4 linked regions of the Homo sapiens genome follow. The protein of the gene in region 3 interacts with the protein of the main gene of each other region in a pairwise test. Each region holds a gene or a part of one and is shown on either strand. Other genes may lie near its edges. The genes, in order: USP54, IQUB, PRDM6 and GEM.

Evidence for each region.
Region 1: the proteins of PRDM6 (region 3) and USP54 interact in binary tests that used the Homo sapiens proteins (3 or more experiments, as listed by UniProt).
Region 2: the proteins of PRDM6 (region 3) and IQUB interact in binary tests that used the Homo sapiens proteins (3 or more experiments, as listed by UniProt).
Region 4: the proteins of PRDM6 (region 3) and GEM interact in binary tests that used the Homo sapiens proteins (3 or more experiments, as listed by UniProt).

What each region holds. Positions count from the first base shown.
Region 1 is NC_000010.11:73,581,337-73,588,365, reverse strand, and holds part of USP54 (ubiquitin carboxyl-terminal hydrolase 54), read left to right. Parts: intron 1-7,029.
Region 2 is NC_000007.14:123,524,588-123,531,616, reverse strand, and holds part of IQUB (IQ motif and ubiquitin-like domain-containing protein), read left to right. Parts: intron 1-3,265; exon of another isoform or gene 3,266-3,372; intron 3,373-7,029. UniProt on the Homo sapiens protein: Adapter protein that anchors the radial spoke 1 (RS1) complex to the A microtubule of outer doublet microtubules in axonemes. The triple radial spokes (RS1, RS2 and RS3) are required to modulate beating of the sperm flagellum.
Region 3 is NC_000005.10:123,099,212-123,106,240, reverse strand, and holds part of PRDM6 (putative histone-lysine N-methyltransferase PRDM6), read right to left. Parts: intron 7,015-7,029; exon of another isoform or gene 6,704-7,014; intron 6,588-6,703; coding exon 6,280-6,587; intron 1-6,279. UniProt on the Homo sapiens protein: Putative histone methyltransferase that acts as a transcriptional repressor of smooth muscle gene expression.
Region 4 is NC_000008.11:94,252,312-94,259,340, reverse strand, and holds part of GEM (GTP-binding protein GEM), read left to right. Parts: intron 1-6,228; coding exon 6,229-6,305; intron 6,306-7,029. UniProt on the Homo sapiens protein: Could be a regulatory protein, possibly participating in receptor-mediated signal transduction at the plasma membrane. Has guanine nucleotide-binding activity but undetectable intrinsic GTPase activity.

The sequences.
Region 1 (7,029 bases), on a different chromosome or scaffold from region 3:
TGTAATCCCAGCCACTATGGATGGAGGCTGAGACAGGAGAATTGCTTGAGTCTGCGAGGCGGAGGTTGCGGTGAGCCAAGATCACGCCACTGTACTCCAGCCTGGGTGACTGCGAGACTCCGTCTCAAAAAACAAAAACAAAAACAAAAAACAACAACAACAAAGGATACATTTAAGAAAAAAAAAAGGATACACTTTTCCCCATTTTTTATATGGCCTTGGGATTTATGCTATCAATTATAGTTTAATCTCCTGAAATTTTTATAGTAGTTATATGTGTGTGTGTGTTTGCCTGTAAGAGAAAGAGAGATGGGGGAGAGATAATGCATATAGAGGATGGTCAGTCATCATAATCACAGTTACTCTTTATGGAATTCCTGTTTTGTACCTGGCCCTAAGTATTCTGCGTACATTATTTTGTTGCATCCTTTCAGCAGATCACATTTATTATAGGTAGTAAATGGCCTGAATGTGATGGAGCTAGGATTGGAATGTAGATTCATCTTATTCTTCATCATCATTATCCTCACCATAATCATCATCAAAACATTTATTCCACACTTACCACATATTAGGCACTGGGCTAATTATACGTATCTACATTATTTTATTTAATTCTTATAACAATCCTATGAGATAGATGTTATTATTAGTCACATTTTTTCTGATGAAGTACCTAAGAGTTAGTTCAATAACTTGGTCAATATGCCACAGCTGTTAGATGGTGGAGCTGAGACCTGTTCTATTCCACTAACTCTGTGTCCCCAAGTTGTATAATTCACATAATGTTCTCTAGGAATGGGACCCTTTGGATCTCCACTAAAAGCATGTTACCTCCCGAGGTTCTGCAATATTGTTGGCCCTGCAGAGGGTGCACTTTTTGTTTTTTTTGAGATGGAGTCTCGCTCTGTTGCCCAGGCTGGAGTGCAGTGGCGCAGTCTCGGCTCACTGCAAGCTCCGCCTCCCAGGTTCACGCCATTCTCCTGCCTCATCCTCCCGAGTAGCTGGGACCACAGGTGCTCGCCACCACACCCGGCTAATTTTTTTGTGTTTTTTAGTAGAGACGGGGTTTCACCGTGTTAGCCAGGATGGTCTCGATCTCCTGACCTTGTGATCTACTTGCCTCAGCCTCCCAAAGTGCTGGGATTACAGGAGTGAGCCACTGCACCCGGCCTGCAGAGGGTATACTTTTAACCACTATGTTCTTTCTACTACCATGCTGCTTCCTTTAGAAGTCAGTAAATTATACAACTTTAGATCTTTATAAGGAAGGGCTAAGTAGCCTGCAGCTGTCATTTCTTAGTTCTTATAATTTGTCAATTATAACAAAGTGAAACGTGCCTTTTTGTTTTCTTTCCAACTACTTTTTAACAAATTTTAGACAAATTTGTTATACATGACAGTTATCTAAGTTCTTGTGCAGGAAAAATAAGACTTTTTGTCCTTTATCAGCATACAATTCTTCTGTTGTACATGATGTAATAGTTTGAAGCTGCCAAAGTCCAGCCCTCAGGAAATTGTTTGAGTTGAGTAACTATTCGCTGGAGAGTTTAAGATAACCAGCTCATAAATCAACAAATAGCTTGGCCCTTTTTATGGTTGTAGATGCTTATCTCTTTCTATTTTCAAGCTTGAATCAGAAGCAAATATTGTTTCCATTTATATAGTCACTATTAGAAAAAGTTGTCAGCAGTATCTCAAGCTAGATAAGGCCATTTTGTGAGTTCTTTTCTTTAAGGAGAGTCAGAATTTATCAGGATGTTAGAATTGGTTGTTCTAGGCTAGGTACCTTCAAACAAAAAGTTTTCTCTTTCAATGAAACTGTCAGTGATTCAATGCCTATTATATTCAACCTCTGTGTGGAATTAGAAAGATGCCCTTAAGACAAAATGTAGTCCACGTACCCAAATAACTGTAACATGAGGGAGAATGTGAGTATTGTAATCCAAACCCCACCATGCACTGAGAGCACAGAGGAGGATGAAATAAATTGGGAGATTGGAAAGGTGAGAGGGTGAGAGAATGATCTGGGAAGGCTTTTCCTTGTAGGATAGTTAAGATTTTCAGCAAGAATAAATGGAGAGGAAAGGCATTCCAGAGAGAGGCAATATTAGAGTCAAGACAATGAGAAAGTAAAGGACAGGGTATATTTGTTATAAAGAAAGGAGTCTAGTGTACTTGGAGTGGAGGATGAGTGAGAGGCACATAATGGATGATCAATGAAATGTTTGATCAGTGAGTGAATGAGTAGATGAAGCTGGAAATGGTGGTAAGGTCCGGTGATTCTCAAACTTTACGCTGGTGCCAGACATATTTAATTCTATCTTATAATTAGGAATTAATTTTTTTTTTCTTTGAGCTGGAGTCTTGCTCTGTCACCAGGCTAGAGTGCAGTGGTGCGATCTTGGCTCACTGCAACCTCTGCCTCCCGGGTTCAAGATTCTCCTGCCTCAGCCTCCTGGGACTACAGGCACGCGCCACCACGCCCAGCTAATTTTTGTATTTTTAGTAGAGACGGGGTTTCACCATGTTGGCCAGGATGATCTTGATCTCTTGACCTCGTGATCTGCCCACCTCAGCCTCCTAAAATGCTGGGATTACAGGTGTGAGCCACTGTGCCTGGCCAGGAATTAATTTTATTGGCAGAATATGTGAATATCAAAAATATGCAGCATAAAAATCACAATCATGAACATGATTCAGTGATATGATTTGGATGTTTGTTCCCTCAAATCTAATGCTGAAATGTGATCCCCAATGTTGGGGCCTAGTGGAAGGTATTAGATCATGGGGGTGGATCCCTCATGAATAGCTCAGTGATGAGTGAGTTCTCACTCAGTTAATTCACACAAGATCTGGTTGTTTAAGAGAGCCTGAGACCTCTCCCTTGTCTCTCTCGCCATGTGACACCTGGGCTTCCCTTTGCGGTCTGTCATGATCGTAAGCTCCCTGAGGCCTTGCCAGAAGCTGAGCAGATGCTGGTGCCATGCTTCCCATACACAGTGCAGAACCATTAGCTGATTAACTTCTTTTCTTTATAAATTACCCAGCCTTGGGTATTTCTTTATAGCAGTGCAAACATGGCTTAACACTGTCAGTTAGGAAAAAAGGTGTTAAAATAGTTCCAATTGACTGCTTTGATTTTTTTCCCTCTTAATTTTGCTACTATTTGTTCAAGTTTCTGTAGTGCTAGCAGTAGACTAAGTAGGTAAGAAAAAATTATGGTAGAGAAACTTATGAAAAATCCATCTATTAATTTTCTTTCCTGTGAATTAGAAAAATACCATTGTTCTTTTCCAGCCAAAAGAATATCTCCCTCTAGGAGCCATTAAATATTTTGAAAAGGAGTGACATGGTGTGGAATGTGTTTTAGGAGTCAGGTGGTAGTGACATGTAGGATTAGAGGACTGGCAATGAGTCAGTAATGTGGTGCAGTGGTCCAGATGTGGTGAGGATCTGAACCTTAGTAGCAGCAGCAGTGAAAATAGAATGAAAGGAAATAGAGATCCACACCAGGCCCTCTGTTTCTAAATAGGAAATAGTTACCAATTATTAACCAGCTTTCATATTGTTAGGATATTACGGGTCTCAATGGTCGGTTATCTCTGGTCTCAAGTCCTTTCACTCTATTTTTAGGGAAAATGTGTTTAAACCCCTATTTTAAGGAAATGATAGTTTATAGATTATTTATAAATTATAGTTAATTTAGAAAATAGAAAAAAGGAAAAAAATCCATAATTTCATCATCCTAACAAGACCGCTATCATTTTACATTTACTTACCCCGATGTTGCTGAGTTTTAAACTTCTCTGTTAATTCATTCTGCGCACATTTAGCTCTGAGAAACAGGTTTCTGAACTAATAAAACACCCAATAATTGCCATACTGTGATATTAAACAGTAAACCAAGAGGTTTCACATATAACCCTCAGTGGATTGTAGGATCACAAACTACGTCAACGTCTCTTCTTTTTTTTTTGAGACAAAGTCTCACTCCATTGCCAGGCTGGAGTGCAGTGGCGTGATCTTGGCTCACTGCAACCTCCGACTCCCTGGTTCAAGCAATTCTCCTGCCTCAGCCTCCCGAGTAGCTGGGATTACAGGCACATGCCACCACGCCCGGCTAATTTTTGTATTTTTAGTACAGATGGGGTTTCACTATGTTGGCCAGACTGGTCTCGAGCTCCTGACCTCGTGATCTGTCCGCCTCGGCCTCCCAAAGTGTTGGCATTACAGGCGTGAGCCACTGTGCCCGTTCACATCTCTTCTTTTCCTATAAATCAATCTTGGTCCATCTACCTTTAGACATATAAATATTTATTTCCCAAATGCCTCAATCCCTTTTGGGCCCAAAGTTCCATCTTCTTCAGTGAATTATTTGCATAATTTAAAATGTTTTTTATTTTGAATTTATAGAAAAGTTGGAAAAATAGTTACCTCTAATGATACCATCTTATATAACCATAATACATTTATCAGAACCAGGAATTAATAGTATTGGTATAACACTATTAACTAAAGAGCTTTCCTGAATTTCACCAGTTTGCCTACCATTATTATTTTTCCTTTTTTATTTTCAGTTTTTTTAAATTGTAATTTATTTTTTTTTTATTTTTAAAGACAGGGTCTTGCTTTGTCACCCTGGCTGGAGTGCAGTGGCACAGTCATAGCTCACTACAGGCTTGAATTTCCAGGCTCAAAAAGTCCTCCTGCCTCACCCTTCTGAGTAGCTGGGACTACAGGCAAGCATTAGCCTGGCTAATTAAAAAAAATTTTTTTTGGCCAGGTGCAGTGGCTCACGCCTGTAATCCCAGCACTTTGGGAGGCTGAGGCGGGCGGATCACCCGAGGTCAGCAGTTTGAGACCAGCCTGGCCAACATAGTGAAACCCCATCTTTACTGAAAATACAAAAATTAGCTGGGCGTGGTGGCAGGCGCCTGTAATCCCAGCTACTCCAGAGGCTGAGGCAGGAGGATTGCTTGAACCCAGGTGACTGAGGTTGCAGTAAGCCAAGATCGCGCCATTTTACTCCAGCCTGGGTGACAAGTGAGAAACTTTGTTTCAAAAAAAAATTTTCTTTGTTTTGTAGAGACAGGGTTTCGCCATCTTGCACAAGCTGCATTGTTCTTTTTCTGTTCCAGGATCCTATCTGGAATCTCACATTGCATTTTAGGTGTTTTTCTTCCTTACTCTTCTGTATTCTGTAAAAGTTTCTTAGTCTTTCTTTGTCTTTTATAACCTTGACATTTTTGTAGAGTATTGATCAATATCAGTTTGAGGGCTATTTGTCAAATATTCCTTAATTTGGATTTGTCTGATATTTTTCTGATGATTGGACTGAGATTATGGTTTAGGCAAGAATACCACAGAAATAATTGTGTCCTTTTCAGTGCATCATATCATGGCATTCATGATGTCAATATGTATTATTACTGGTTATTTTGACCTTGATCACTTGGTTAAGGTAGTTTCTGCTGGGTTTCTCCATTGTGAAACTACTATATTTTCCTTTGTAGTTAATAAATGCCTTAGTGGAGATACTTTGATACTGTCATTTTTATTAATGTCATGGAGTTCTCTACACATGCAATTAATAGTGTCTCCTTAAAGACTTTATTGAACTTTAGTTACTGTGAAGTCAATTAGCTTAAAGAGTCCATCTCCTTGGATGGGCGCAGTGGTTCACGCCTGTGCCACCGCATGGTTCACAACTTTGGGAGGCCGAGGTGGGTGGATCACTTGAGGCCAGGAGTTCAAGACCAGCCTGGCCAACATGGCGAAACTCTGTCTCTACTAAAAGTACAAAAATAGCCAGGCATGGTGGCGCATGCCTGTAATCCCAGCTACTCGGGAGGCTGAGGTAGGAGAATTGCTTGAACCCGGGAGGTGGAGGTGGCTGTTGCAGTGAGCCAAGATCGCATCACTGCACTCCAGCCTGGGTGACAGAGCGAGACTCTGTCTCAAAAAAAAAAAAAAGTCCTTCTCCTTAGAAACTTCCCACACTTTACACCTGGTTTTATCAAAGGGTTCCCAGGCTTTGCACGAACAAATTCTATCTAGTCTTCATTGATTTCAGTTCCATTCTAGCTCTGCTCATAATGAATCTCTTATGCTAATAACCTGTAGCTCTCTGGGCCTCATTTACCCCTCTGTCTCTTAGGGCGCCAGGCTCCTCCTGGCCCAGTGTCCTTCCAGGCCTCATCTCCCTTTATGCACAAGCCAGTTCCTTTGAATGACTGCTTTGGGTTTTTTCCGAAACAGGCTGAGAGAAGCTGACTTTGTTGGTGAAGAATACAGTGGGGGATAATTAGGGTGGCTGCAGCTGGAGCCTGGTTTATTACTTTGGCCTGAGAAAAATGGTAGCACATTAAGCTGTACTGTGTATACTTGTGAAAGAATCATTCTCTGTATTTCACTAATACAGAGAAAGTGTTTTTTTCTAAAGGTCACCAGCTTCTAGAGGTATGTCTTTAATTCTGGCAACCTTAATCTGTAATGATCTTTTCAATTTAGCCCTGTTGACTGTGGAGTTACTTGCTGTGAGCACAAGAATCCAAAATCCAAATGTGGACCAAATATTATATTTAGATCTATTTAGTTCAAACAAATTTTATACAGTGAATAACATTAGATGTTTCTTTGATTAATAAAATACAAATTTATTAGTATTACTGAATTCAAAGTAGCTTTTTGAATTATGTATTTTCTCAAGTGACATATACTATAAAAGCCCCATTTATGTAATGTGGATGGGGCAGACTTAGATTCTCTGACACTTGAAGCTTATGCAATTCAGAGGGCCTCCTTTAAGGAAAATATTTTTTGAAACAGAAAATGAGATATTGGGCCTTGAGAATCTGTGCAAGAGAAAGAGTCCTGAAGCTTAAGTTTCAGTGGCTTGGTAAATCTGCCTCTGGATGTGAGGCACTGCAAAAAGGTTGAGACCCACTGTTTTCCATCATTTCATACATGGAAAGGTTTTTGGCTTACCCACAGGAGGCTAGTGTTTTCAGATTGGGAACAGTGGGA
Region 2 (7,029 bases), on a different chromosome or scaffold from region 3:
TTGATTTGAAAATTATGATCAGGAAAATAAATAACCTGAATATATGCTTAATAATATAAGACTTTGAGTTTGCAAAACAGAAATCCTGACTTGACTAAAATACACTTTTCATTTGACGGAGACCTTTAGTTAAGGAAAGATTAGTTTTAGCATTCAACATAACTAAATACCCAGCATTATGTTTTACGGTTTTTTTCAACAATGATTTATGTGTCGTGTTTGGTGTTGCCTCCAAGCAGTACCTAGGATAGCTGATGCTTTTACTTTGAGTCTTTTTCTTTAGTTGGAACATTAATTGCAAGCTTTTGGTTGGTAATCATTTTTTATGGGATGTATTTACTATATGGTCCTCACGGAGACACATTGTTATCTGGAGAACCACAGTTTGGAAAATACATTTCTCTTTATTATAAAGTTTTTTGTTTTATATATATAATGCCACAGTGTGATAGGATACAAAGACTATGCATTAGGGCTTTGGAGTCTTAATTGTTCTTTGTGTTTTTCTTTTTTTCCAATTTGATTATGGATCCGAACCTAATGCACTCTGTGATCTTAAGCAAGTTTCTTGACAGTTCCAGTTTTCCTATCTACAGAGACAAGAAGATCTACCTCAGAGTCATTGTAAGGATTAAATAAATTTGTAAAGCTCTCAAAGAGCAGCCTAATCCCAGCATTTTGGGTGGCCGAGGCGGGCGGAGCACCTGAGGTCAGGAGTTTGAGACCAGCCTGGCCAACATGGTGAAACCCCGTCTCTGCTAAAAATACAAAAATTGGCCAGGCATGGTGGGGGGTGCCTATAATCTGAGCTACTGGGGAGGCTGAGGCAGGAGAATTGCTTGAATCTGGGAGGTGGAGTTTGCAGTAAGCCAAGATCGCGCCACTTCACTCCAGCCTGGGCAAAAAGAGTGAAACTCCATCTCAAAAAAAAAAAAAAAAAAAAATCAAAGAGCAAAAAGGTAAAAAGTTTGTGCAGAGTAAAAAATGGGTAGAAATGGATTACAGGGAAGCTTATAGTGAGAACAAACCATAAATAAAATTGACATTGTGAACACCAGCCTTAGATTTTTTTTCCCTGAAAATTAAAAAGTGCTTTTTTAAATTTTTTTATTTTTTGAGTTGGAGGGTTTTTTGGTGTTGTTGTTGTTGTTTGTTGTTGTTTTGTTTTTGGTTTTTTGTTTTTTTTCAGAGTCTCCCTCTGTCGCCAGGCTGGAGTGCAGTGGCGCTATCTCAGCTCACTGCAACCTCCGCCTTCCAGGTTGAAGCGATTCTCCTGCCTCAGCTTCCCGAGTAGCTGGGACTACAGGTGCCTGCCACCATGCCCGGCTAATTTTTTGTATTTTAGTAGAGACGGGGTTTCACCATGTTGGCCGGGATGGTCTCGATCAGGCGTGAGCCACTGTACCGGTTGAGATGGAGTCTTGCTCTGTTGCCCAGGCTGGAATGCAGTGGCATGATCTCATCTCATTGCAACCTCTGCCTTCCAGGTTCAAGTGATCCGTGTTTCAGCCTCCCCAATAGCTGCGATTGCAGGCTCCTGCCACCACTCCCAGCTGATTTTTGTATTTTGTTTTGTTTTCTTTTTGAGATGGAGTCTGGCTCTGTCGCCAGGCTGGAGTGCAGTGGTGCAATCTTGGCTCACTGCAACCTCCAACTCCCTGGTTCAAGCAATTCTCCTGCCTCAGCCTCCCGAGTAGCTGGGATTACAGGCACATGCCACCACGCCCAGCTAATTTTTGTATTTTTGGTAGACACAGGGTTTTATCATGTTGGCCAGGATGGTCTTGATCTCCTGACCTTGTGATCCGTCTGCTCAGCCTCCCAAAGTGCTGGGATTACAGGCATGAGCCACCGCACCTAGCCTGTTTTTTTTTTTTTTTTTTTTTTTTTTTAAGTAGAGACAGGGTTTCACTATGTTGGCCAGGCTGGCCTCCCAACTCCTGACCTCAAGATCCGCCCACTTTAGACTCCCAAAGCGCTGGGATTACAGGCATGAGCCACTGCATCCAGCAGAAAATTTAAAAATTAATATAGATTATTGTTTATATATAATTGCATGCATTTAAAAGTTCGATCTTTAACATAACTTTAAAAACTGATTCTTAAAAAATAAATTATCCTATTAAAACAAAAAAAAAACACTAGAGACAGCTTAAATGTCCATCAATGAACAACAGTTGACTACCATGTGGCTTAGCCTTGCAAAGAAGTTACTGTGAAGTTGTTGAAAAGAATGCGGCAGAATCGTATTTTACATAAAAATAAATGTTAAGCACGTATTATAAAAAGTCATAAAATAGTATTAAAGTTTAAAAATAAACAGAAATATAGTTTATGAAAGACATTGATATGATCATAAACAAATTTAAATGTATATATATTATATAATTGTAGCTTTATAGACAATTCCTGGAAAGATAAACTGCCTAACAATGAGAAATAAAATTAGCATGTCTGAAATACTTTTACTTCTTATTTTATCCCCTTCTATTCTGTTAGTTTTTTTTCTAGTAAGCACATATTACTCTCTTAAAAACAACAACAAAATGAATGATAACAATAATGAAAAAATGATTTTGAAAAGTCTTTTCCAACTGTAGCTTTCCAAACTGGGTTGGAAGATCACATTTTACATTTCACACTTTTAATATGTGTACTTTGTTATTTACATTTAATATTTGCTGCAGTGAGAGTTTACACATATGTATGCAAGTAGAGCATATTAATATGTACATATGAGGGGGTATTAGGAACCAATAAAATTAGCTCCTTGTTCTAGATGGGTGAAAAAAAATCTGCTGAATATTTTTTACTCTATTTTAAATCATAGTCATGTTTGTCACTTAAGAATAAAAGACATTCTCTGATAATATATCTGATGGCAAAATTGTTAGTTAAATTCTGGATCTGACTACCACTAACCTACCATGAGGCATTCCTGGGTCTTAGCTTTTTCATCTGCAGGGAGATCAGTTTCTAGACTTTTTCTTCATCACCAGGACCCCTTTTCTGTTCTCCTCCCAATCCCCCATGGACTCCTACACTGAGATACAGCACAGTTAAGTGGTTAAGGGCATGGGTTCTGGATCCAGACTGCCTGGATTTGGATCCCAGATATACTGCCTACTAGCTCTGGGTTCTTGAAAATATTGCTTAACCTCTCTGTGCTAATTTCTTTATCTGTAAAATGGGCATAATGATATCATCTGTGAGAATTAAATAATTTGGTATAAGTATTTGCTAATATTATGCTTTATTTTAAAAGTATTTTTTTCGGGGAGGAGTCAAGATGTCCAAATAGGAATAGCTCTGGTCAACAGCTCCCAGCGTGAGCGACGCAGAAGACGGGTGATTTCTGCATTTCCATCTGAGGTACAGGGTTCATCTCACTAGGGAGTGCCAGACAGTGGGCGCAGGTCAGTGGGTGCGTGCACCGTGCGCGAGCCGAAGCAGGGCGAGGCATTGCCTCACTTGGGAAGCGCAAGGGGTCAGGGAGTTCCCTTTCCTAGTCAAAGAAAGTGGTGACAGACGGCACCTGGAAAATCGGGTCACTCCCACCCGAATACTGCGCTTTTCCGACAGGCTTAAAAAACGGCGGACCAGGAGATTATATCCCCCACCCGGCTCGGAGGGTCCTACGCCCACGGAGTCTCGCTAATTGCTAGCACAGCAGTCTGAGATCAAACTGCAAGGCGGCAGCGAGGCTGGGGGAGGGGCGCCCGCCATTGCTCAGGCTTGCTTAGGTAAACAAAGCAGCTGGGAAGCTCCAACTGGGTGGAGCCCACCACAGCTCAAGGAGGCCTGCCTGCCTCTGTAGGCTCCACCTCTGGGGGCAGGGCACAGACAAACAAAAAGACAGCAGTAAACTCTGCAGACTTAAATGTCCCTGTCTGACAGCTTTGAAGAGAGCAGTGGTTCTCCCAGCACGCAGCTGGAGATCTGAGAACGGGCAGACTGCCTCCTCAAGTGGGTCCCTGGCCCCTGACCCCCGAGCAGCCTAACTGGGAGGCACCCCCCAGCAGGGGCAGACTGACACCTCACACGGCCGGGTGCTCCAACAGACCTGCAGCCGAGGGTCCTGTCTGTTTGAAGGAAAACTAACAAACAGAAAGGACATCCACACCAAAAACCCATCTGTACATCACCATCATCAAAGACCAAAAGTAGATAAAACCACAAAGATGGGGAAAAAACAGAGCAGAAAAACTGGAAACTCTAAAAAGCAGAGTGCCTCTCCTCCTCCAGAGGAACGCAGTTCCTCACCAGCAACAGAACAAAGCTGGATGGAGAATGACTTTGACGAGCTGAGAGAAGAAGGCTTCAGACGATCAAATTACTCCGAGCTACAGGAGGAAATTCAAACCAAAGGCAAAGAAGTTGAAAACTTTGAAAAAAATTTGGAAGAATGTATAACTACAATAACCAATAAAGAAAAGTGCTTAAAGGAGCTGATGGAGCTGAAAACCAAGGCTCGAGAACTACGTGAAGAATGCAGAAGCCTCAGGAGCCGATGTGATCAACTGGAAGGAAGGGTATCAGCGATGGAAGATGAAATGAATGAAATGAAGGCTACAAGCCAGAAGAAAGTGGAGGCCAATATTCAACATTCTTAAAGAAAAGAATTTTCAACCCAGAATTTCATATCCAGCCAAACTAAGCTTCATAAGTGAAGGAGAAATAAAATACTTTACAGACAAGCAAATGCTGAGAGATTTTGTCACCACCAGGCCTGCCCTAAAAGAGCGCCTGAAGAAGCGCTAAACGTGGAAAGGAACAACTGGTACCAGCCGCTGCAAAATCACGCCAAAATGTAAAGACCATCGAGACTAGGAAGAAACTGCATCAACTAATGAGCAAAATAACCAGCTAACATCATAATGACAGGATCAAATTCACACATAACAATATTAACTTTAAATGTAAATGGACTAAATGCTCCAATTAAAAGACACAGACTGGCAAATTGGATAAAGAGTCAAGACCCATCAGTGTGCTGTATTCAGGAAACCCATCTCACGTGCAGAGACACACATAGGCTCAAAATAAAAGGATGGAGGAAGATCTACCAAGCAAATGGAAAACAAAAAAAGGCAGGGGTTGCAATCCTAGTCTCTGATAAAACAGACCTTAAACCAACAAAGATCAAAAGATACAAAGAAGGCCATTACTTAATGGTAAAGGGATCAATTCAACAAGAAGAGCTAACCTAAATATATATGCACCCAATACAGGAGCACCCAGATTCATAAAGCAAGTCCTGAGTGACCTACAAAGAGACTTAGACTCCCACACATTAATAATGGGAGACTTTAACACTCCACTGTCAACATTAGACAGATCAACGAGACAGAAAGTCAACAAAGATACCCAGGAATTGAACTCAGCTCTGCACCAAGTGGACTTAATAGACATCTACAGAACTCTACACCCCAAATCAACAGAATATACATTTTTTTCAGCACCACACCACACCTATTCCAAAATTGACCACATACTTGGAAGTAAAGCTCTCCTCAGCAAATGTAAAAGAACAGAAATTATAACAAACTATCTCTCAGACCACAGTGCAATCAAACTAGAACTCAGGATTAAGAATCTCACTCAAAACCGCTTAACTACATGGAAACTGAACAACATGCTCCTGAATGACTACTGGGTACATAACAAAATGAAGGCAGAAATAAAGATGTTCTTTGAAACCAACGAGAACAAAGACACAACATACCAGCATCTCTGGGATGCATTCAAAGCAGTGTGTAGAGGGAAATTTATAGCACTAAATGCCCACAAGAGAAAGCAGGAAAGATCCAAAATTGACATCCTAACATCACAATTAAAAGAACTAGAAAAGCAAGAGCAAACACTTTCAAAAGCTAGCAGAAGGCAAGAAATAACTAAAATCAGAGCAGAAATGAAGGAAACAGAGACACAAAAAACCCTTCAAAAAATTAATGAATCCAGGAGCTGGTTTTTTGAAAGGATGAACAAAATTGATAGACCGCTAGCAAGACGAATAAAGAAAAAAAGAGAGAAGAATCAAATAGACGCAATAAAAAATGATAAAGGGGATATCACCACCTATCCCACAGAAATACAAACTACCATCAGAGAATACTACAAACACCTCTACGCAAATAAACTAGAAAATCTAGAAGAAATGGATAAATTCCTGGACACATACACTCTCCCAAGACTAAACCAGGAAGAAGTTGAACCTCTGAATAGACCAATAACAGGAGCTGAAATTGTGGCAATAATCAATAGCTTACCAACCAAAAAGAGTCCAGGACCAGATGGATTCACAGCCGAATTCTACCAGAGGTACAAGGAGGAAATGGTACCATTCCTTCTGAAACTATTCCGATCAATAGAAAAAGAGGGAATCCTCCCTAACTCATTTTATGAGGCCAGCATCATCCTGATACCAAAGCTGGGCAGAGACACAACCAAAAAAGAGAATTTTAGACCAATATCCTTGATGAACATTGATGCAAAAATCTTCAATAAAATACTGGCAAACCGAATCCAGCAGCACATGAAAAAGCTTATCCAACATGATCAAGTGGGCTTCATCCCTGGGATACAAGCCTGGTTCAATATACGCAAATCAATAAATGTAATCCAGCATATAAACAGAACCAAAGACAAAAACCACATGATTATCTCAATAGATGCAGAAAAGGCCTTTGACAAAATTCAACAACACTTCATGCTAAAAACTCTCAATAAATTAGGTATTGATGGGACGTATCTGAAAATAATAAGAGCTATCTATGACAAACCCACAGCCAATATCATACTGAATGGGCCAAAACTGGAAGCATTCCCTTTGAAAACTGGCACAAGACAGGGATGCCCTCTCTCACCACTCCTATTCAACATAGTGTTGGAAGTTCTGGCCAGGGCAATTAGGCAGGAGAAGGAAATAAAGGCTATTCAATTAGGAAAAGAGGAAGTCAAATTGTCCCTGTTTGCAGACGACATGATTGTATATCTAGAAAACCCCATTGTCTCAGCCCAAACTCTCCT
Region 3 (7,029 bases):
AGCCCGCCACACATAGATTGCTCTTCTCAGTTAAACCTTGGCCAATTGATTCCAGCCAATAGTGTGCTGTCAGTACTTTACTTACTGCTCAATCTCACTAACCTGACATTTATGGTGCACTGATTGGCCTCTGTCAGTGGTGCTGGTTGTAAATTCACTTTGAAAAGCTTTGTGTTAACAGCCTTCAACCAGGCTCCAAGAAGAGTACGAACAGGCAGCCTGACAATTGCTCGACCTCCTGCCCTTATTACAGTGAGTAAATCAGGGTTTGAGCCATTAGGCTGGAGCCTGGGGCCTACACAAAAAGGATTGACATGACGAAAGGTCAACCTCTGTCACACATGTGTAACAATTTGGATAATGGAATTCTGTAACTTATTTGAGTGAGGTGGCAAATGCTTACAAGGAAAAGTATATTCTGCTCTGGCTTCTCTGACTTTTATGCTAAGTACTTATACCGAAGTCTGTATTTCCTGTGTAAATATACAAGGAATGTCTGAACTAATGAAATCTTGGGGTATATACGATCCTAAAAAAGAATGAAAGAAAAAGAACGAAGGAGGCAGGCTCATAGTTGTTCTACATATAGGGTTCTTTAGAATAGCAAATGGTTTTTCCCATACTACCAGTGTATTAAATCCATCTTCTGAGACAAGAGGACTTTGATATTGTAGGCATATTCCCCAGCTGAGTAATGTGTAGTTTTTCATATTCAATCACAACAATTTTTAATCCATATTATACTACAACTGTAAGTGATTTCTGGGTAACACAATAGATATTCTCAAATTAAAACTGCTTTAATTTACACAGTGAAATAAGAAGATTCCCCTGCAGGCTTCTTGGGACCAGTGTTATGGTATGACATTTCCATCAGATCACTTGCTGCCAGGCAGTGACTGGGGAGGGCAGGTTTCATTTACCCACTAACCTCTGAGATACTGATTTCTCTTTTTATACCTTACTTTTAAGTCAGTGTGGGAAAAGAAAAAAAAATTACATGGTGTAAGAAAATATGCAGTTATGGACCAGTAAATATTTGTGAATTATTTTCTTCATATTGAGAAAATGCTATTGATAAAAGAAGCAATTTGTAAAAATAGATAAACTGAACTAATGAGAAAAATAATCCGGTGGATACAGAACTCATCAGTCTTTATAAAGTGTTTGCAGCTAAAGCACTGTAGTGTCACATGCATGTTGGGATTAAACCTCACTGATGTGAGAATGTCCAAATGGCTGTTATAATTTTTTTTTAAAGCAGAATTATTCTCGGACTTAGAAAACCAAGGGTGGCACTGTGCAGCATGATACATAAACCAAAAGGACCAGAACTTTAAATGGACATTTTCAAAGCAACTTAAAGTACTAAGTTTTGACTTTTAACACAATGCTGGAAACCATTCCAAGAGGTGGCAGATGGTTTTACAGTTTATGTAAAACTACAAAATGCTCACACTCTATCAAATAGGCACCACTATAAAAGACATCTTCAAATCAAATGAGGCAAAGCCAGAGAGATACACCAGCTGTTACTCTGCATAATTTAAAACATAATAGTAGCATTACTATGGTTTATTTTTAAGGAGAAATTATTTGAATTTCACAAATTTGACATATTCAAAACCAAACTGACAGGCAGACTATTATATTAAATGATAAATTGCTGAAAAACATGATTTTTACTTCAATATAACTGCGACAGCTACATAATTCTATCCCCTAGTGTCTTGGTGAATCACGCCAAAATGAGCCAAAGTCTATAAAGCAGAATATGGAATATATAATTACAGTACTATCACTGCGACAACTTTTAAGTGATTCTAATTTAATTGAAAATGATTAATTTAAAATAATTTTTTCAACATCTAAATACATATAAGTGGGTATAGTACTGTATATATGAAATTGAGTCATTTATAGAAACATACATAATATATTTAAAATATGAAATCAATTCATTTTCTTCTAGAACCAATTACCTATGATGGTTTTGAAATATAAACATTTAGCAATGTGTAATATATTTTTAATATTGGTTTTCATTAATATATTTTGACTTAAGCTAAGCAGTAATGATGAAAAATAGACCATTTGCTTAACAGCAAAACTCTTATTAAATCTAAAATATTATGGCACAAAACCAAATCACAAAAAGGCTCACATTATGTTATCCCCCTTGATTTTCTGAAGAAAAATAATGAAGGTTTCCACATAGTGCAAATGAAAACGAGACACTCAAATTTACTCAGGCAAAGAGAAGACAGGTTCTGTAAAATTAAAGCCCTTTCTAGTATCTTAACTGTATTACTAACAAGTCACTACATTATTTCAATTAGCAGGATAATTTTTCTAGGGTGAAAATAAGTGCAATTTATTTTGTCATTCTTGCTAAAATTTCTTGTCAAGTCAGGCACTGAGTTGAAAGGCCTGAGTAATTCTAGCCTATCTTAAACTGTAACCTTATTTTAAACTTCCGTATTTTATTCCAGTAGAATTTTAAGTATACACTGGGTACATTCCTCAGGTCCAGTCATATTAAATTCTGATGTTAAGCAGAAAGAGGAAACCGTGTGCAACTAGATTAATTTATCTCAAGAGAAAGGGGGCACATTAATAATTGAGATAATGTTTTCATAAATGTTGGAATCAAATGTGCCTTTTCACTTCTTTATTGGAAAACACATTAGGATAAAATTATCTCATTCTCATCAATAAGACCTAATTGCTGAGAAAGATTGTTTTCTTTGGAAAACATTGAGAAAGATTTTATTTCATATGATGTCCAAATAGCTAGAAATGTATCATGCATCCAAGTCTTGGAATAAATATATATAACCAAGGCAAGTCATTGTCTGATGCACCTTGTAATGTTTTGTTTTAAAGTATCTGAATTTATTATTGTTTAAAAAACACATTAAAATTCTGATTCTAAAAGAAACTAGCAAAAATAAATGACTAATTATTTGGCTTTTAGCTTGTAATCTTCTTAAACTATAAAAAATAAAAAATTACCTTGGCTTATTGCAAAAAAAGAAAAAACAACTCTCTTGGAATTTCCCATAAATACCCAGAAGAGTCAAAATGTACTGAATATAATGAAATGATATTTAACTTCCTTTAAATTGCTGTATTTTGAAGAACTATGATTATACACAAAGAAAATATTAACTAAAACAATGATTGCATGCTTACAAACCAAACAAGCTCTCCATGGCTGATGTATGTTAAATAACAAAAAGTCATTTTTCTACAAAGAAAATAGAGCTTCTAATGATTAAATAAAAGGAGTAACTAAGGTGAATCTGATTGTTTCTGTAATAAGCCTTCATGTGTATAATAAAGTACAACCATACTAAAAACAATGAAGTGTAAACTGAAACAAAAATCCATCATCTACTTGGAAATAGTGACAGGAAAAGATTAGCAATCCATTTATTGTACTGAAATAAAGATAAGTAACCCTGGTAAGATCCATCAGGACCTGAGTATTGAACTTGAAATAAAAAGACATTTCTTCATCAGCAAATGACTTGAAAAAATGTGAGGAAGAGAAATGATTACAGTTGCCTTTTAAAATAAAATAATCATGATTCAACTGCTTTTAATTTTTTTAATACATTTTGTTGACTTGCTATTCTGGAAGACATCTAAAAGAATAAGTTTTTGAAATGGATAATTATTACATGAGTCATTAAACAATTATTGCCAAACATTTCCGATAGACCTACAATGTATTCTACTTACTGATTCTAATGTGAATAATATGATGATTTTTTTAAATTTCAGAAGAAAATTTAGCTTTGAAAGAAAGAACTAAAATTTAAGGAACAATCTAACATTTGGAATATTGTATTATAAATGTAACAATTCAAACGGTCATGTTTCATAAAAATAAATCATAATGCTTAAAAATTTTAAACTCATATTCTATATCTTAAAAATCATTATGCTAATAAAAATCTGAAACCTATTTTATAAAGTAAGTATTTTATTTTACAAATGGATATTGGCACTAAGTTACCTGGCCCCAGTTAGTCGCATTTCACGTGATCTCCCAGGAGACTGACACATTTTGTATGGCTAAAGTTTTAAAATCCCTTCAATTCCCAAATGTACCTTATTCTAACTGTTGTTACAGATAATTAAAAAAAATAGATTATGTCCTGAATTTAGGAGTTGGATCCTGTAGATCATCCAAGCATACACCCAGCAAGTCTTTTTTCTAACAGAGAACCAACTCTAAGAACCATCCCAGCACACTCAACTCACATGCCCTGAACAATAGATAAAATTCACTTTATATCTACTGAAGTATCAAGAAAAAGAAAAACACTGACTAAATTCCCCAGTCTCTTTACTACAACAAAATTTTAACTTCATCAAGTACAAGTAAAGGTAGAAAAGAAAGGTTTCATAGTTTTCAGTGTTAATATGCATTGTTATAGTCTATATGTGTAGTGGCCTCCTGCCAACATCCCAATCATTCAAAGCCTTCTGGGGGGGAAAAAACCCACAATGAACTATGAGATTTTTGTTCATGTTTATGTCTTTGTCCCCTGGCACTCTAAAAATAGATAGGCATCAAAGGGCAATATAATAGTGTTCAGTTTTAACATTTTCAGGTAGAGTAAATTTGTACTATTGAACAATTGCTGTACGATTTTCTTAGAAAAATATTGGCAGACCTTTAACTATATGATATTAGAGTTCCTAATAACACTACTGGAACATGAGAAGTACCTAAAAGTGTTTTATAAACTTTAAACCACATTGGAGGTTACAATTAATTAGTCAGAAACAAAAACCAAAATGTTTCCAAACCAGATGCTTTGAGCCGGGGCACTCCAGCAGATAACTATAGGGTAGGTAGTTCATTGGCTTCCACGTCCTCATTTTGGGCTGCTGGGCTGTAGACTCATACACTCAGCTCCTCCTCCATCAAAAGAGGCTTTGCAGACACAGGCCTCAGGACCCCATCCCCAACAGTCACAGGAGGGTTCCGGATACCAGGTCTGTTTTTCATACTGTATCTCCATGGCCTAATATAGTGCTGGCCAGAGTGGGCACTCATCAAAAATTTGAGTGGATTAATGAGTCCCATGAGCTTTATTTAGTGAATATAAGGCAGCTCACAGTGAAAAAGATCATTTTGACAGGCCAGCAAGCCAAGTATGAGAGGCAATCTCTTGCAGAAACGATGCATTAATGGAGCCCAGGGGTTCATGTCAACCTGACCCCTGGCATTTAAGAAACTTTATTTTCTAGCTATTCCTACTTTATTATACCACTTGCCCAGTTAGTCAGATTTACATATTGTTTAAGGGTATGACTTCTGTCATCTTGTATTACATAAGCAACTTTCCATGGATGGAGGTGGCTAAGATTGGTAGGGGGATGACCTAATGATAGGCATCTATCTCTTCAGAAGTGAACCTCAATAATCCACCATGATGTTTTGGGAGAAACCTCAGGCTGACATTTTTCAAATAGGTTATTTTTAAATAATTGCTTCAGGTAAGATTGTGCCATTAAAGTATTACCCTCAATTGGGTTACACCAAAGTGCTCACACTGTTCCCATGTTTTGATTTTCCATATTGATGAAGATTACATAATTTCCGTTCATCAGAGAAGCAGCAGAATTTGCGATTTCTGATTCCCAATATAATTTGCTTAATTTGGGCCCTTTGATTCCCAATATAATTTGCTTACTTTGGGCCCTTTGAAAGTTGTGAAACATGTGATCTCTCACGTTCAACTTTGACAAAATTGTTTTTATCTGAGAAAAGGGGCCAGCCTCTCCTTCCTCCCCTCTATGCTTCTGTTCCTTTCTGCTCACTACACAGAAACACACTGGAAGTGCTTGGAATGGGACATAAAGGTCACCCAGCTCAAACATTCTAATGCCCACCCTCCGCTGCTCCATCTCCTCAGCTGTTTTCTCTTTTTCTCAAAATTCACAGAGACCAACGGTCAAATCCATTCCAGCTGGAATGGAGGCAGCTTAAGGTGACTCTGTCTTCAGACACCTGTAGGCTGTTTCCCTGGCTGGGTTGCTATTGTGTCAGTCCCAGCTCTGTCAGCCTCCTTACTGCAGGTGCTTCAGACACCAGGCATCTACAGGACCAGAGAAATCTATTCTCCGCTACCCTCTGGGGGCCAAGGGAGGCTCTCTTCGCAGTTGCCACAGCCAAAGGCCAGGCTCCCTGCCGGCCAAGGCTCCCTGCTGGCCAAGGCTCCTGCTCGGTGGGGAGGCGCTGTGCAGCCGGCCACTTACCTCCCAGAGATGCTGCGTGTTCCTCACGGCGCCTGCCTGCACCTTCTCTGGGGGCAGAAGCACGCCTTGGAAAGGTCCAATCCAGGTGCCTTGCTGGATCCTCTGCGCCGCGCAGATGCCGTAGGCCAGGCCGGGCACAGTACTGGTGCAGAGGCACACCTCGCGAGGCAGGTCCCGCAGCCACTCCGGCAGCTCCGGCGGGGGCGCGGCGGCCGCAGCGCTGCTGGTGCCCACAAGCCGGCGCAGCGAGTGCAGTGGCCCATGCATAGGGCACTCGCCGTTGCGGTTGTCCGCGCACATGTCGCAACCTGCGGGAGACAAGAAGGAGGAAGGGAAGGGAGCGGGTTAATCCGGCCGCCCCGAGCGGCCCATCTTTGAGTAAACTCCCGAGACAACAGCATCACCGCCCGCCTGGGTAAGCCACCTTCGAGGAAGGTGATGCCTTGGGGGCACCGAAGCAACTCAGAGGAGGAGGAGAAGAGAACCCGCGCCGCTCCCTTGGAATTCGCCGCACCCAGATCTGCCTGGTACCGGGCCAGGACTCTAGGCTCCCCAAAAAGCCTTCGGATCTGGGCGCAGATAGCATGTCCGCTCTCCACGGAACCGACAGTTCCAGGCTTCTTCCTCCCGTTTCAGTCTCTCTGCATCTCTCCCTCTGTCTCTGTCTCTCTCTCTCTCTTCCCTACTGTCTCTCGTTCCTTCTGACCCTCTCGCCCATTCCTGAGGTTTCTATCTGGAGTTTCAGGATGT
Region 4 (7,029 bases), on a different chromosome or scaffold from region 3:
CAAGTCACATGGTCTGTGTTCTGTCGCGACTCACAACTGAATCACAGAGTAGGGAGGTGTCTTAGCGATGACTCAGTTCTCCCCTGCATTGATGCATATTAATGTTATTCCTCACTACCCACAGCCCATCTCATCTGGAGGTTTTATTCTTCTTGATTGTCTCAGTGTCAAGGAGTTCACTGCCTCATGAGGCAGCTCAGGAACTGGGCTATAAATAATGACTCATTGTTGTAACATTGATTTCTCTCCTCACTCCTGGAATCTCAGAAGAGTAAAGGGAGAAATAGGGCCAGTGTTGTACAATTGATTCCCTCTTTCTTTGTAAAGGCTGCCAGGTGACTTGCTAGGAAAGAGAAACGGGAGGAAGGGGCTAGCATTTAGAGTGAATGTTTGCAACGGGAGAGGCACTTTGTTAGGTGCCTTATATTTGCTGCTGTTTATTTTGGTCTTCACAAAGTTCTTGTACTCATGAGTAAACTAAGTCTCAGGGAGATCAAAAGCCTTATCCAGAATCACCCAATAAGGAAGGTGGATTTAGAATTTGGGATTTTATCATCTTAGTTCAGTTCATTTTACCATTTCTGGGGAACTTGCTATGTGCCAGGCACTGTGTTAAATACTTCCCACACATATTTTTGATAATACTTGAATCAATCTGGCATTAATATACCTATTTGACAGGTGAAGAAATGGAGGCTTACAAAGTCAAGTGACTTTCCCAGGGTGAAAAAACTAGTACATGGTATGACCAGGATTCAAATCTAGTTGTGATTGAACCCAAATCCTGTGTCTTTTCATAGCCCCCTGCAGCCCCAGGATTTAGCTTCCAAATACTAAGTATGACAGCACATTGGGCATCAGCCACACACCTGGCTCTGGCCTAAGCTCTGGGATACAAGGCGATGGATGAGGTATACCATGCCCCCTAGTAATGAGCTAAGTGTTAGTTGCTATGTTGCAGAGCAGGGTCACATTAACTAATATTTTAAGCAGTAACGATACAGTGCTTTGGGCGTTGACATAAGGAAGAGATGGACTGGGAGTTGTTTTTTGTTTTTAAGAGGGAAGAATTGAAAAAAGTTAGTGGATAGTAGACTTTCAAAAATGTTTGTCCATTAGAATGGAGTTGTATGTATCCAGAGGGTAATATTCCCATAGGCATAAAATGTTAAGAAGACTGACTCATACCTGGAATTTGGAAAGGTAGCCTTCCCAGATATTTTGGGAACTTCTTTGTTGAGAGAGAGAGAGAGAGATGCCCAATATGACAGCACATTGGGCATCAGGCATATGGCTGATCCTGGGGCCGCAGGGGACCATGAAAAGACACAGGATTTGGGTTCAATCATGAGAGAAAGGGAATCCTTTCCCTAGCTTCTTACACAGAGAATCTGTAGGACCTGCTGGAATCACTAGTTGGTTTTGTTTCCCAAGAGGAAGGTTTTCTAAGGCACACCCCTACATTTTTTTTTTTTTAAATCAGCATTCACTGTAAGAAAAAAAATCGACATAATATTCTCATAATGATTTCTCCTAATAAAGATGGATATTGTTACAGTTACACTACAGTAATCTTATGACTCTCTGTATACACTGAATGCCATTCATTCATTCATTCATTCCTAAGAAGTTACTGAATGTATAGCACAGAGCTTGGTGAGGCACTCTGGGGACATGCAAAGAGTCATGGGGCTTCTTCTGCGGAGATGCTCACAGTATGCAATGGAGCATAATGTATACACCAAGTAGAAATTGAGATAGGATGTGGTAAATGTCTTGAAAGTGGTGTAAGGAGAGTGCTGTGGGAATTCCGAGGCGAAAAGATTACCTCTGACTGTGGATTTAAGAGCTTCATGGTTGGCCCGGCATGGTGGCTCATGCCTGTAATCCCAACACTTTGGGAGGCCGAGGCAGGTGGATCACCTGAGGTCAGGAGTCCAAGACCAGCCTGGCCAACATGGTAAAACCCCATCTCTACTAAAAATACAAAAAATTAGCCGGGCGTGGTGGCATGTGCCTGTAATCCCAGCTACTGAGGAGGCTGAGGCAGGCGAGTCATTTGAATCTGGGAGGTGGAGATTGCAGTGAGTCGAGATCTCACCATTGCACTCCAGCCTGGGCAACAAAAGTGAAACTCCATCTCAAAAATGAAATAAAATAAAATAAAAATAAAAATAAAATAAAATAAATAAAATAAATAAAAGCTTCATGGAAGAGATGGTCTCTGAACTGGACCCTAGGGACAACTAGGATTTGGAAGCCCTGAGCTAGGTGGGAAGGCACACCACACATATATAGCAAAGTACGGAAGTCTCATTGGGCTTGGGGTTTGATGATGGGTTTAGACGCAGCTCTGACACTGACTTGGCTGGGTGCTCTTGGACAAGCCACTTAGCCTCCTCAAGCTGCCTCATTAGTGTAATTGGGGTAATACCTCCTTCATAGGGTGTTACGAGGATTAAAGGATATAACATGTTGAGCATGGAGCATGGTGCCTGGCACATAGTAAGTACGAAATGAGCATTAGTTAGAGCTGATTCTGAATCTACCATTTCCTTTTGATGTGCTTATCTTTCAAAAGTGGTGGTTTCCTTGCTTGTGGCCCCTGTCCACTTTGGTCACTGTTGGCTGGGGCCCGTGGAGCTGTCCAGAGGGGACCGGGGCCAGTAGAGTAGAGGACAGTATTTGTAGAGCAGGCATTTCTTCTGAGGTTCCTTGGGATCCCCTGAGCTATGAAAGCTGGAAGCAGTTGAAAGTTTTCAGGGAGAGGGATGCTGGAGTCTCAGAACTTTAGAGGTGCTGCAGGAGTCAGTTCTGGCAGTGAGAGAACACTTGGGCGGGTTTCACACACACACAGCACTTGAGCCAGTCTTGGGCAGAAGGGGCCTCACTTCCAAGCACAAGGAGTGTTAACGAAAAAATTATTAACATGGTAAGGAAGACTTTATTCAGGGCCATTGCAGTAGGCATCCCAATAGTGGGGAGAGATGGGGCTCAATTCCAAGTACAAGAAGAACAAGTGGGCACTTAGCCAAGGAGCAGGTGGGAGGGGGTCAGAGGATAGAAAATTACTAAGAGGAGACGTCAAGGTTAGGGGGATTCTTGCTGAAGTCAGGCCAAGGAGCAGGTGGGAGGGGGTCAGAGGATGGAAAATTACTAAGAGGAGACGTCAAGGTTAGGGGGATTCTTGCTGAAGTCAGGCCAAGGACTTAGACTATCAGAGGTGGTGGGTGAGGAATTTGATCAGATATTGAAGGTGGGGGATTCTCACTAAACTGACTTAGCAGGATTCTTGCTAAAGCTGAATTCTGCCAGGATGGAAACGGAAGCCCAGGGAGAGGCCGGGTAGAGAAGAGGATTCAGAGGAGCCTGACTAAAGTTTGGTCAGGGAGAGAGTCTGTCAGGGGGATCAAATGAGGAAAGACAAACTGGTCTAGAGAAAGTGGCTACTGACCACCATCACCCCTTATAGAACGTCTGTCTGTCCCCATCAGCATGAGTTCTTTTGCTACATAGAGTGTGCACAGACACCCCAGCTTTCTTCCAGTGCACTGGAGAAGTAGGGGTGTCTCCAGACCCAGATTACGGAAAAGCCTCACAGAGACTAATCAGTATCCAAACCTTTCTCCACACCTTTACTGGAAGCAGATTTCAAAGAGCTCTCCTAGAGTCTGGTATTCTTTTCCTTCCCTTCTTCTCACCTGATTAGCACTTGAAAAGGATAAAAGATGAGCTGAGCAACTTAGATGAAGAGAAACCTGGAGCTCTGGTTACTCCCAGGCTTGCACCTGGTTAGGGGAGAGCCTTCAGTCGGGATGCCATGTGTGCTGGAAGGGTCCTGGTGCACACAGCCAGAGGCCGTATCTAAACTCATGTACTGGGGTGGGGGGTAAAGTGGGGAGCACACGTGCTGAGCAGGGAGGAGATGGATTGTTTTAGCCTCCCAGGCCTCCAACACCGTAATTTTCAGGCAAAGGTAAGATCAGACAGAATGATCCTGTCAGGAAGCTTCTAGAACGGGAAAGCATGTTTTTACTTTCATGGCTGTGATCCTTAGTCCACTTTTTCTCTAGACTTGTTCTGATATCTCTTAAGCCAGGAGAAAGTTGGGTTTTCCTTTTCCGTCAGCGATTGGAACACAGTATGTTTCTATTTGAATGACTGGGCACTCAAGCGAGTCCCCTGTACCTGAGTGGTGGGCTGAGAAAGTTCCTCCATCATTGAAGGAGTTGTCTGAGTGCAGGGAGGGGTTTTAGAGAAGAGCTAAGAACCCTGTGGTGGGAAGCAGCAGTCAGGCCATCCCCGTTCTGTGCTGCTCAGGCTCTGACAGTCTCCCTTGCGTTGTCTAATTTACAGGTTGAGGTTGTGAGGTTCTACCCCTGGTAATCCAAATAGTCCCACTGTGATCTCATTCCTTCTGCATATTGTGAGCAGGCACACGATGGGCGAGACAGAGTTTTAATTCCCCAAGGGCAAACACTTACTGATTAGAAGAATGACGCTGTGGGAGGTGGGGAAACTCACAGAAAGACAGGGCCATGCCTGGTTAACTCTCTTCTTATTTGTCCAAGTTTTCCTTCTCTAAGGAAGGGAAACCTCTCCTGATTCCAATTCTTAGATGATGAAGCATTAAACCAGGAGCAGTGTTTTTCGTAAACTGCTCGCTATTGTAAAACAAGAAGTGCCCTGGTTCCAACGTAGCTCTCTTAAGCTAGGATTTATCTGTAGTGAGGAAGTGCTGAGTATGGCAAGAACCAGCTTCCTTCACCTGAAGAAGTGATAATGGCTAACACTGACTGAGTTTCTACTTTGTGCCCAGGCTTAATACAGGTAATTGTCACATAGCCCTAAGGTGTGAGTACTATTATCAATCCCATTGCACAGATGAAGAAAACTGAGGCTCAGAGAGCCTAAGTTGCGTAGACCCCCAGAGTTCATAAGGGATGGCACCTGGATTTGAATTCAGGTTTGCTTGTTTTCACAGCCACAATGCTATATTTATCATTCGTTCACTGTACAAACTTTATTGTGCACCAGCAATGTACCAATGTGCTGGGGGACACAGTAAACAGCATAGATGCAAATGTCTGCCCTAACATTACGAGAGGGGCAGGAGGGACAGAAAATAATAGAATAAGTAAGTTAAATGTGTTGTATGTTAGGTGGCAATAAGTGAGATGGAGAAACATAAAGCAGAGAAGGAATATTGTGGGATAGAAGTGTTGCAATTTTAAATGGATGGCCAGGAAGCACCTCCCCCAGAGGGAGGTAAGGAAACAGGCCTTGTGGGTATTTGAGGGAAAAGATTCTAGACAAAAAGAACAGAAGAAAAATGATAAATCATTATGAAAGTCATAATTTTCAAAAGATGAAATTCAAAACAGGAAACCTCATTGTGAAAATAGAGTGGGGATGGGCTCAATGGTATTGGGATGAGGGAAATCCCACTTGCAAAAATCCCACTGTACCCCTTTTCTACGCCTGCCCCCCATGGATTTTCCAGGCTGGAACTGCTTTGGCCCATTGTACTGTACTGTGTTCACCCTTCACCTACACAAGATCTGGGCTCAAGTGCAGGGAGGAAAGTTTCCATTACCAAGTAGAGCTGGAGGCTGCATTTCTATTATACTCAAGATGGAAAAACAAGCCCACTTATTCCTAGGGAACAGCATTTTTTTTAAAAAAAGGAAGAAAACTACAGCCAAAACAGGGAGAGTCTCAAGATTCATTCTTGCACTTGTCCGAAGAGGAGCAATGTCTCTGAGCCCAAAGCTCCTGAAATTGCTAGTGAGTATTCAGTAACTACCCACTGAAAGGTACAATGGACTTATGAAAATGTGGCTTACAGTTTCACTGGGTGGTTAATGTTTCCTCATAGCATTAACCATTGAATCTGAGTCAAAAGCTCTTGAGTAAGTTTATCCTCACAAATGATTTTGCCATACAAAAGGTCCAGGAATGATGCAAACAAATGCCTTTTACTCCATGTGGTTTAGTGACACATGTTCGAGAGAGACGTTCTGCTGGATAAGGACTGGAGGAATTATATGTAGAATGTTGTTGAAGGTGACAAAAAATAGTAATTTGCCTTTGAAAATATCTGTATACTTACATAATTAATTGCATATTTAGTAAGTTTATGTTCTAGCACAATTTTCTACCTGACCCTCTTATGGAGAAGTGTTGCATATTCGCCTGACTCCAATATCTTTGTTCTTTCTTCTCTAGAAGATACATATGAACGAACCCTGATGGTTGATGGGGAAAGTGCAACGATTATACTCCTGGATATGTGGGAAAATAAGGTATGCAGAGCCTGTAGCTCTCTAAATTCCTTTAGGGCTTTCCTTTCAACAAGTTGTTTGGTGCAAGGGTGACCTTGTCCTATATAGTAGGTGTTCCAGATGAGGTGGGCTCATTTTCTTGATTAAAAGCATACTGCTGAAGAATGAGACTGTTCTAAGGAACAGGTCGTTCACAGATGAGTTCTGAATAACAAGCAAGTTGTAGTGACTTGCCTTTAGTTCTATTAAAAAACACACCCAAAAAGTTTATTTGTTTTAGGGAAAATACAAACAGGCATTGACTGTTATTTTAAATAACATACATCCATCTCATATGAAGTTGAGATTCTCAATACCAGTCTTCAACATTGGCTTTTTAAAGATTTTAAAAAGCTTCAGAACCTATGTGCTAGACTTCTGTTAATTGAAAACCCTCCTAGTCCCACAAAAGTGTTCTTAATCTCATCACTTGGAAAAGGCAAAAGGGAGTTTTTGGGAAGTCAGAAAAGGCTCATTTTTGGTAGATTAAATAGAAATTGGAAATGCTGTTTGGCAGAGAAGTTGTGTAATTTATCAAATCAAGCTGTAGAAGATACTGAAAAGTGAAAACTTTTTGGCATAAATACTGGACAGGCTAGCAATCTTTACAGCCACCAGACATCTTATAGGCATAGAAGACCAATGCTTTTAGGGAGTTGGAAGCGATTTTCTTCCTTTTTCCTATTTTTCCTATCAGCAAGTGTAC